3 linked regions of the Homo sapiens genome follow. The protein of the gene in region 2 purifies or fractionates together with the protein of the main gene of each other region. This does not show direct contact. Each region holds a gene or a part of one and is shown on either strand. Other genes may lie near its edges.

What was found.
Region 1: the proteins of PHF12 (region 2) and GATAD1 purify together in Homo sapiens (affinity purification with mass spectrometry; 7 studies listed by BioGRID and IntAct, with this or other methods). This does not show direct contact.
Region 3: the proteins of PHF12 (region 2) and RBBP7 purify together in Homo sapiens (affinity purification with mass spectrometry; 7 studies listed by BioGRID and IntAct, with this or other methods). This does not show direct contact.

What each region holds. Positions count from the first base shown.
Region 1 is NC_000007.14:92,457,482-92,460,726, reverse strand, and holds the end of GATAD1 (GATA zinc finger domain-containing protein 1), read right to left. Parts: 3' UTR 652-3,245; downstream 1-651. UniProt on the Homo sapiens protein: Component of some chromatin complex recruited to chromatin sites methylated 'Lys-4' of histone H3 (H3K4me), with a preference for trimethylated form (H3K4me3).
Region 2 is NC_000017.11:28,909,774-28,913,524, forward strand, and holds part of PHF12 (PHD finger protein 12), read right to left. Parts: intron 3,505-3,751; coding exon 2,709-3,504; coding exon of another isoform or gene 2,683-2,708; exon of another isoform or gene 2,371-2,682; intron 1,465-2,370; coding exon 1,339-1,464; intron 597-1,338; coding exon 453-596; coding exon of another isoform or gene 262-452; exon of another isoform or gene 1-261.
Region 3 is NC_000023.11:16,868,200-16,871,950, forward strand, and holds the start of RBBP7 (histone-binding protein RBBP7), read right to left. Parts: upstream 2,164-3,751; 5' UTR 1,855-2,163; coding exon 1,839-1,854; intron 1,665-1,838; exon of another isoform or gene 1,443-1,664; coding exon of another isoform or gene 1,295-1,442; intron 1,022-1,294; coding exon 877-1,021; intron 1-876. UniProt on the Homo sapiens protein: Core histone-binding subunit that may target chromatin remodeling factors, histone acetyltransferases and histone deacetylases to their histone substrates in a manner that is regulated by nucleosomal DNA.

The sequences.
Region 1 (3,245 bases), on a different chromosome or scaffold from region 2:
GGGTCACTGCAGCTCAAGTGATCCTCCACCTCAGCCTCTTAAAGTGCTGGGATTACAGGCATGAGCTACTGTGCCTGGGCTCCTTCCATCTTTTATAAAAGATGCTTCTTGTTTGCAGAATTGCTATCATACAGTTCTACATTCTGCTTTTTTCTCTTATTTATTGTGAACCTTTCCGCTACTACGAGCAATCTTCCTTGTGGGTCACCATTAAGAGGTGCTTAAATAAATTACTGTGCATTTATGCATCTGACCCAATAATTAATGGCCCACCTCTTGTGGGTCATTTGGGTTCCTTCTCTTGGCACAGACCTTCTCCTGGCTTATATTTCTTGGGTGTAGGAGGTATACCCTCCTACCAAAGGTATGGCTCACACACCTGGTATGAAGTAAACAGCACAGTTCTTCAAACATCCCCAGGGCAGCCAGACAAAATCCACAAAAATGCCTCTCCCTTTTCTGGGCATGACAGAAACTTCATTCTAAGCGTGTGCAATGTTTATATGTAGACACAACACACATGCATGTGTATAAAGCAAATAAATACATTTCCCTCTATTGTTCATTTGATTTCACCTACTTACGGCTGAAGTGGAAAACTTATTAGGCCTGGAAAAGCCTTTCACAGCCAGGAACTGGAATGGTTTGGGATAATTTCCTTCAAATACTCATATTAAGCTTTATTTGTGTTAAGAGAACTATTTAAAACTCATCTTAAAAACATCTTGTTTAAAACAATCTTAAAAACAATCTAATACTAACCCAGAATGTAACAATCTAAATTTTACTTGACTATTCACAATAGAATTTAAAAGTTTCAGCCAAAGTTAATATGAATTAATAACTAAAATATCAACAAGCATTTTAGTTAACAGTATCTAACTCAGACCCTACAATCAGCATCTCCCATAAGCAAGAACCGGGGTTAGGTTATGTGGAAGTTACAAAGATGAGTAAATAAAACACAGCATCCCTGTCATCCCAGGACCAAAGGGATAGGAGTGAGGATGATGGAAGTAGAAACTTAAATGTGATGACAATAGGATAGAGATTGATTCCAAAAAGGCATGGGAATCTGGAAAGTTCTCAAAGAAAGAATCCGAAGGTGTTAAGAAAGGCCTTTGGAAGGTAGAATTGGAGAGAACAGTATGAACAAGGACTCAGAGCCAGAAAAATTGGGCGGGCATACAGGGGAAAGATTTTAGTGGTAATGAGGAAACAAGGCTGGGAACACAGACCAGGGCCATATCAGGTCCGGCCTCAGCAGGAGAAATATAAGCAATGGGAACCATCACACTGGGTGAAATTCAATCTTTATTTTAAAAGATGGTACACAACCATCTGCCAATTTATAAACAGATGATCAATTTATAGATTTTTAAAAGTCTACATTTTAATAAATGTTTTACATTGTGTTCATTTTATTAGCCATTTTTTGATTTTCCTAAAATCTGTTACTTATTAATGATGAATCTACTCCAAAATCTTTTTTTTTTTTTTTTGGAGATGGAGTCATGCCGTCACCCAGACTGGAGTGCAGTGGCGCGATCTCGGCTCACTGCAGTCTCTGCCTCCTGAGTTCCAGCGATTCTCCTGCCTCAGCCTCCCGAGTAGACTAGCTGGGATTATAGGCGCACGCCACCACGCCCAGCTAATTTTTGTATTTTTAGTAGAGACGGGGTTTCATGTTGACCAGGCTGGTCTCGAACTCCTGACCTCAGGTGATCCGCCTGCCTCAGCCTTCCAAAGTGCTGGGATTACAGGCGTGAGCCACTGTGCCCGGCCTCTACTCCAAATTCTAAGTACGATACTGTTTTGGTTTTAAATACCATTTTTGGTTAAAGAGCCCCATTTAAATTGTTTAAATGAAATAAATACATCCAAAGTAAATGCACGGTGAAAAATACATTTTAATCCAAAAGTTTTGAATATTGGCACTTAGAAAGTTATTTACAATCAATTTTACTATACCCTTTGTGAATAAAGAGATAATTATGTACGTGTAGCTACCTATAGTTGTTTCTTTCCAACTCAAACACCATAACTATGTGGAAAAAGGGTAAGAGTTAAAGCTGCTGCAGCTCAAAATCATTACAATCAACTTAGATTCTGCAAATTTTCCCAGGGTTGAAAAATGCTGGTTAAATCAGGACAAAAGAGGAGGCAAGTGAGTACACCCCACTCCTCTCCCATTTTACGTGTTGCTCCCTTACTTAACCGGCAAAGACCTGCACCTGAATTCTAGACAATTTCATATACAACAGGCCTCTTATTATGGGTCCATAGCAGATGGTTTAGGGTAGATGTTTTAAAGATATCAATGCTAATGGCCTACCAATGACTTTCATGACCTCCCAATATTCGTTTTAATGGTAGTCAAGAGACTATCAAGCAGGAAGCCTGATCTCGACATGTTTCCTCTGCGGCTTTGGTGAAGCTGACTATCTGCAGTATAAAATCTTATGGTTTGATCGAAGTCTCATTTTTGACTAGAAACAGTAAAGAGCAGCTTTATTAAGATCAATGGAATGGTTCTGAATGCCTGTTTCTACAGAAGGATTAAATTAAAATTTTTTCTTTTTTTTCTTTTTTGAGACAGTCTTGCTCTATCACCCAGGCTGGAGTGCAGTGGCACGATCTCGGCTTACTGCAATCTCCACCTCCCGAGTTCAAGCAATTCTCCTGCCTCAGCCTCCCGAGTAGCTGGGATTACAGGCATGCACCATAACACCCAACTAATTTTTGTATATTTAGTAGAGACAGGGTTTCATCATGTTGGCCAGGCTGGTCCTGAACTCCTGACCTCAAGTGATCCATCCACTCAGGCCTCCCAAAGTGCCGGGATTACAGGCATGAGCCACCGCACGTGGCCTAGATGAAAGTTTTTAAAAGCCTGGGCTAATAAAATCATCCACCAATCATTTTTCTTATGGTTAAAGCAGCCAAAAAGCTGTCACAGCATTTTTGAGATGAGAACATAAGGCTTGTGTGGCTTTATGATAGATGCTGTTAGTCATTTTATTTGATTAAGCCCTTGGTCAGTCATCTATACCTTAATTAATATTTTGTTCTTATAGAAAAATACAATCCATTTTATGAGTTTCTAGAAATAAATAATGGAGAAAAATAGATACTACCTGTTCCTAATGGTCTCTCTGGAAATTACAGCTTTTGCCTAGGAAGATACACATATAGAATATAATTTAAGTTCAAAATATATTTCATTATATTCTATCCCTTTTAAT
Region 2 (3,751 bases):
AGAGATAGGGTCTCACTGTGTTGCCCAGGCTGGTCTCCAACTCCTGGGCTCAAGTGATCCTCCCGCCTCAGCCTCCCAAAGTGCTGGGATTACAGGTGTGAGCCACTGCACTCAGTCGGGAAGCCCTTCTAATTCAAATATTTGAAAGCAAGTAAGCAGAAAGTACACTACATATACCCAAAGGTACTGGTAGCTGCTTTGCTGTGTCTCGAAGTGGACTTATATATGAAAGAAAGTTACAGCAGACTTCCCCAAGTCTGATCAGAAAGCTGTGGTTGCCATCTTGTTCCTGCTCTCTTCAGAAAAAAACCATGGTGCTTTATTAAGCCCATGAAAAGCACACAAGGAGGTTTGAGATACTGGAAGCTCAGATTCTCCATGGAGGCAAGGTGACCATTCGCACACGTAGAGGGGAGATCTGATGATGTGGTGACAGGTGTGTACATGCGCACCTTCTATGTGGTGCCCTCCAGAAGCCAGCTGATGTGTCCCGACACTGCCCGGTGAAGGTTGGACCCGGGAGGGGAAAAGCTGATGTATTCTCTGCAAGGCCAGAAACTTGATCAGCTTCTCGTCCAGCATATTTATCTCGATTTCTATTAGCCAAAGAGAAAGATTAAAAAGCAGCTGAGATGGGAAGTGGAATGTGGAAGCAAATCAGGGTCACAGAGCAAATAGTTTGGCATTTCTAAAATCCAGCCAAGTGATTTTTACTCAAACAGCATTGAGTGCAGAGCGTACAAGGATCTGCAGCTGGGCATCTCACTTGCCATTTGCAGTGAGATGGGCCCCAATGCAGCCTGTGCAGCTGCCTCCTGTAGTTGGGTGGACTGATTTTAATTAAAGTGCCCCTAGAAAGGCAGAGTGGAATAAACCACTTGCCTGTCTGTGGGGGAGGGCCTGGATGTCTGATATTGAGACTTGAACTTTCTACCCACCTTGTGTTCACAGAGATCAAGATCTGTCCCTGTTCTCCTGGACTTTGGGGGTTTCCCACAGATGAGGTCCCTCCTTTGGGAGTGAGGATCTTAGTTTTATTCTGCAAATCCAGGTGATCTGCCTAAAGTGATTTTGTTCTCGTCTCACTGGTTCAGCTTGGCTCTGTCCTCCCTTCATCTTTGATTATGTGTATATGCACATGTAGAAGGCAGAGCTACAGAAGGAGCTTTCTTTTTCACCCCGCCCCCCCATCCAAAAGGATACTCCTCATTCCCATCTCCCCCTAGGCCTCTGGGATCAGGTGTCCCTTCCCTCCCTTTCTGAAATGAGCTGAATGCTGTATAGGAATAGCACCTTCAACATAGCAAACGGTGGAACAGCAGCAGCTCATTCACTCACCTCCATTGACATCCATAAATGCTCGAAGTGAGTTGGTGAGGTCCACCATGGCAGTAGAGTTGGCTGGGAAAGAGGGTACGGTTAAAGCGCTTCCTATGGATAACGTGCCGGGGCTGACCTTGCCATCTGGGGACGGAGCAGGAAGACTGTTACTTACGTCGCCTGAGGGAAACCCACCGTCCAATCCCCCACTGCTGAGACAGGTCTGGATTTCGGACCCAAGGTGATGTTCCCTTCTTGATTCTCAACCCATAGGCTCTGGAACTCCTAGAGCTAAAAACGTGTGGTGAGGAAGGGCAGATGGAACGACAAAGCACCCAGGCACGCAGGAGTCTCCAGAGCACTGAGAACCACTGAAATCCACTGCTCTGGGGAAAGTGGTGGGGCAGCTTCATTCTTTGGGCCATGACCACCTCCCTGCTGCCTCTACTTTAAAATAAGTAGTGCCTGCCCTTATAATTCTTGCCTACTGAAATATGACTCACGGCGTGGAGAATCTACCCACGCTGGTTTTAAGCGATAAACAGAGATAGGAAAACAGCCTGGGAGCGGGGCCATCCTGGGACCAGGGGCTCCCATGCAGAGAAATCACAATCATCTGGTTACCGAGACTCCCAGCTGACTAGGAGGCCGGCTTCAGTTCAGACGGGAGAGACCACAGAGGGTTCCGGCAGCATCTGAAACCTGGTTCAGATGCTGGGGTCAGCAACTTCAAGGTCCTGAGTGCTCTCTGGGGACAGCTGAGAGAGCAGGTCCACAGTAGGCCAAGTACAGACCTGAAGGACCGCCCTTTGGCATGTGGCCTGAGGGCACGCTTCTGGGCTAGAACAATCCCTGTGGGCATCCCACTCTACAGCTCCTCTGAAAGACAGTGCTGCTGTCTAGCCCTGCTTCCTGACATGGAAGTTCATCAGATTAACTCTTTCTGAGAATATGCATCAGGCATGAATCCATTCTTTTGTGTGGATCTGACAATACTGAGGCCATCACGCAGAACCTCAGGCTGATCATAGTAATTCCAGAGAGCACCCTGCCTTCTTTTAAGGTGACAGAACAAAACAGGCAGAGGCCTAGGCCTGGAAGGTATGGGATGGAGTCAGGAGACCTGGGCTGTGGTTCCAATCCTGCCACTGACTCAGTAGGTCATTTTAAGGAAATCACTGAAGCTTTCAGAGCCTAAGCAGTCCCATTTATAAACGGGACAAGTTAACATGTGCTTCCTCTTCTATTACGGAAATGAGAGTAAGACAAACAATACAAAGGCCAAAGTCCTCTGAAGTATTCACAGGGATATAAGTGCTTTTAGAATCTTATTTGCCAGAAAGAGCATAAAATTATTCCAAATCAACCCAAGGCTGAGCAGCACTCACCTGACGATGGCGCTGGTGAGCTGAATCGTTGGTTGGCTGTTGTGGCCAAGATACCATCTCCTGCTGCTTGCGGGGGAGTGAGCACCCGGGTGGCGTTTGGGGGTGAGCCCAGTGGCCTTGAATCTGTCAACGGAGGTCCTATCTGTGATTGGACAGTCTTTCTTTGCAAAGTGCTGGTGTTCTCGATGCTGGCACAAGAGCTGGGAATGGAAGGGGGCAGGCTTGGGACAGGAACCAAACTCCTCTGGGGGCAAGAGCTGGGGCCAGTGGCATTCTCTGTCTTCACAATGATGCCGACGGTGTGGTTCTGAAGGCCCCCAGCCGCTGGTGGCGTGAGGGGCCGGGGCCAGCCTTGCCGGTGTGAGAGGCCTGGTAGTGGGGTGTTAGCGCCTGGAAGTCGCCGGGGGTCCGTGGAATCAGTAGGGCTGCTGTAGAGGTGTGGGCCATTAGCTTTCACCTCTGTGTTCACTGGCCCATTGGCAGTCCCACAAGGGGTTTTCTTGGATTTTTCCGCACAAGAACTGCAGCCGATGTCCTCTAGGGCTGGGGACTGGTGGGGTGGAGAGCAGCTCAGGGAATTCTGGGTGCTAATCCCTGAGGGGCAGGACAAGGGGTAGTGGGAAGGTGTAGGTGTCTTGTCAGCTGTTTGCAGGGAGGTGGTGACTGAGCTGTCAGTCACAATAACAGGCTTAATATCAGCCTTCTCTGTCTGTTCAGAGTCCCAATGCGAAGGCATCTGCTTAGCAGATAAATGTTTCAATATGCTGCACTGGAGCGCAACAACACTACAGAGCCACTGCAATGGAAGGAGAGGAGAGGGGGGTGAGAAGCCTGAGAGGCGCCGGTCCTTCCTGCCACAGTGGCCAGGGCTGCAGCAGAGCTGACAAGCAGTTTCCGAGGTCCCATCATGAATGCTCACAAAGGGTGTGCTTGACTCCTGATAGAATTCCATTTCCATTCCCAAGCAAGACTTATAGGTACCCTCAGCAGGCCAACACTCCCTCTGGCCAACAGAGCTTGGGATCTGCATTTTGACTCTGCCT
Region 3 (3,751 bases), on a different chromosome or scaffold from region 2:
CCTTCCAAAGCACTAGGATTACAGGAGTATAAACCACTGTGCCTGACCCCATATTTAATACACTTTAAAAGTACATGGTCAAGTTCCTACTAGAAAAGGTGCAAGTGAATGAGAAAGGCAGTCTAATGCAGGGACCAGCTGTGTGATCTTGGGATGGCACTTAAACTCTCACTCCCAGTTTCCTTATCAGTAAAACAAGGATGATGAAAAGTACCTACAGCATAGTACTATTATGAGGATTACAACAAACAACAGGACGTAGATTCTTCAGATGTGCCAGGCCCTGTTCTGAGTGCTCAATAAATGCCAGCAATTATTACCAGAGAAACTGCAGATGTAACAGAAAAGAATACTCTTATGAAGACTAACAGCAATCTCAAAGTGTATTCCATAAGCCGATAACATCTTTTCTTTGGTCAATTGTTGACAAGGTCTTTTTCCCTTTACCAATTAAAATGTATTTATCTTGGATGACTGTTACGTGTGTTCACTTTGTAAAAATTTATCAAGCCATACAACACTTAAGATGTGTGAACTTTTCCGTAAATATTCTATTTTTCAGTAAAGTTTTAAAGAAACGCATTAGTTTGGGCCCAGAAAGATGCTGCTCTACATTCAAGCCCAGGAAATGTCAAATATATTCAGTGCTTCCTCCAAACACGATTAATCTCACAACAGCTTCTTTCTCCCCTTTTACCACCACACTATACACCAGAAATCATCCCACAAATCACGTAAGTTTTGAAAATAAAAACCACCTGCCACCTCATGCAAGGGCTGATTACATACTTATGTTCTATGCATAAAACGCCAAAACTAGGAAATTCAGAACGACAGTTAAATTTAAACAAAATAAAAGTTGCCAGAAACCCTTACTTAGTCACTTCAGGAAGCCACTGAACGGTAAGACTGGGCCACTGAAGAGCATGGGTCATAACCAGGTCATATAGAAACGGTGTATTCTTCTTCCAGATTTTATATTCTTCATTGATGACACGCTCCTCCACAGTATCTTCAAACACTGAAATTTGGAGAAAGCCCACACGATTAAGTGGCTGAGATAGATCAAAGTCAGAAATTGGAGGTCACCTCAAGATGGCCACACCTCATGTACTCTTTCCTTTTACCTCTAATTTGGACACGGACAACTAACTGCTCTTCCAGAAGGTGGAGAAAATACTAACAATCAGGAAGCCTATTTTTTCCATTGAGATCAATACCCCCTGCGTACACCATGTTGGGTAGTCAATTACACGGACATGGAAATTGTTTACCCTGTTACAGCTGTTCGCACCTGTTCTAAGATGACGACCTGTACGTACAGGGGCTGCGCGACCCAGTCGGGAAGACAAATGCACGTGTAGCAGAAGCCCACAGGCCTGGTCTCTCCAATCCCCATCAGGGGAGGCCCCAGCTCCCACGACGCCCGCCTCGGCAGCCATAGGCCTGAGGACCCCAGCAACCCCCGGACAAGGGCCGCGACCCCGAGGCGGTCAACGCGCGCGCGCGCGTAGAAAGAGCCGCGGCGCTCGCTTCCCAGCGGCGGGGGCCGCCTCCGCCCCGGGGCCGAGGGCGCCGGAGGGAGCGCAGCCGCTGGAGGAGGGAAGGGAAGAGGGGGGCCCAGCCCTCGGCCCCGCGCCCGGCTCCGGAAGTGCTCGGAGCCCTCGGCGCGGCGGTCCCGTCCCGCGCAGGCCCCTCGAGGCGCGCGCCCAGTCTCGCGCCCGGCCCCGCCCCCTGCTCCGCACGCCAATTCGCGCCTTTCGCCGGCGCGTGCCGCGGCCTCGCGCGCCCGCCGCCCCCCGCGGCCCCGGCGCGCGCCGCCCCGCAGGGCCTCTTACTCTCTTTACTCGCCATCTTGCGTCGGGTCGTTCGCCCCTCGCCGCCGCCTCGGACTCCTCTCGTTAGCCAAGAGCAGCCCGACCGCTGGCGCTCCTGCCTTTCCCAAGCGCGTCACACTCCCCACTGTCGAAAGCCCGGGCCCCGTCTTGCTGCCTGGGTGCTCCCCAGACGCCGCGTCCTTCTTTCCTGCCTCCTCCCCGCTCGCGGGTACCGAGGTCTGAGGCGCTCTTCTCTCTCTCTCCAAACTTGGAACGAGACTTTTCAACCCGCGCCTCCCAGCCCGCCCAGGCAGCTGAGCGCAGGCGCATCCGCCCTGGGAAAAGTGAGAGGAGGCGGAGAGGCGGGTCTGGGAGCCAACGGCTCCGGCGCCGAGACCAATGACGCGCGGCGGGCGGGTTTCACGCGGCGTTCGGAGGCGGGCTTCTGGGGGTGGGCGGAGCGTGCCGCGGCAGGAAGTTGGCGATGCGCAGGCGCGAGGGCTCGCCCGGCGCTCCCAGGGCCGGCCGCGGAGGCGGATGGGGCGCGCGGGGGCGGGGCGGATGAGGGCCCGAGGGGGCGGGGCGGATGGGGGCGCGCGAGGGCGGGGCTGATGGAGGCGCGGCTGGCCGGCTGAGTGGGGGCCGCGAGCCCCGGGGCGGCGAGCCTTGGGGCCCGCGGGGCGTGGTTGCTTGTAGCGGCAGCGGTGGTGGGGGTGAGAGGGGGGCAGGGAGGCTGCCGCCGCTTAGCCAAGCAAAATCTCAGAGCAAGAGGGGAAAATGGTTCCTGTTCTCGAGAGATTACTGTGCCTTCAAAGTCTCCCTGATAATCACGGACATGCAATTCTCTGCACCCCTGAAATGTTCTCCTCCAGCCGACTGGCCTTTCCTGGGGCCCGGTCGGGCCGAGGTGGGGCTGGTCTCAGACGGAGGAGAGCTTTTGGAGAGGCCGCGGGCGTTTTCTGCCTGCAAAAGCCGCCGGGCCGCCCTGTTAGGCTAAATGTGCAGCCTGTGGCGGCACAGGCCGCCGGCGGGCCGAAGCCGATTTACACTGTTACATTTTAATTTGTTCGATGTTTGGGTCCTTAAGATGATGGTTTGCGGCCTCTTCGCGCTTCAGGGGATTTTGTCCCTGCACTGGCGTTCCTTTCTCATCCCAGCCCCGGCCCCTGCTGAGTCATTTTTGTCACCTGCAGGGGTCCCAGCGCGACCCCACCCCAAGCTGGCGGAGCTGGAGAGAGCAGGGCTGAACTACCCTGGGCCTGCTTACCTGAGCCCTGCTCTGCTCAGGAACTTCATAGCCCCTGAGGAGTGTGTCGGGGGAGGAGAAAGCTGGCTGCAAGGCCAAAAGGGAAATAGAAGAAAATGAGGGCCAGGAGCAGAGGGGACGGAGTTGGGGGAGGCGACCAAGGTGCCTGCGTGCAAAGGGAACCGAAGTGTACGTCCAGCTCCGGGAGAGGCTCCTCTTGCAAAAGCACCCCCGGAACATTTGCTGCCTTGATACCTTTCCAAGTGCCTTCATGCTCAGATGCTATCTTGCAGATGCCGCTGTCATGCCCACTTTTCTGACCGGGACGCAAACCCAGACGTTAGTCAGTGGCAGAACCAGTCACATTCCCTTCTGTAGATATTTACTGTGTTGTTTCCGATACAATACCGTTCATTATTATAACGCCCTCCCCCCATTCTGGGTCAAGGAATCTTGTTAGTGCCTAAGGCTGAGGGGGTGGCTAGAGAGGGAAGAGAGTTGGAAGGGTGTTTAAGCAATACAGCCCTCATATTCTAGGACATTAGTTGGCAAGACTTTTTCTAAAAGGACCGAGATAGTAAATATTTTAGGCTTTGGGGGCAACTGCTCGACTCTGTCGCTTTGCAGCGCAAAGCAGCCATGGAAAATATGGATGCATTTGGCTGCGTTCCGATAAAACTACAGACAC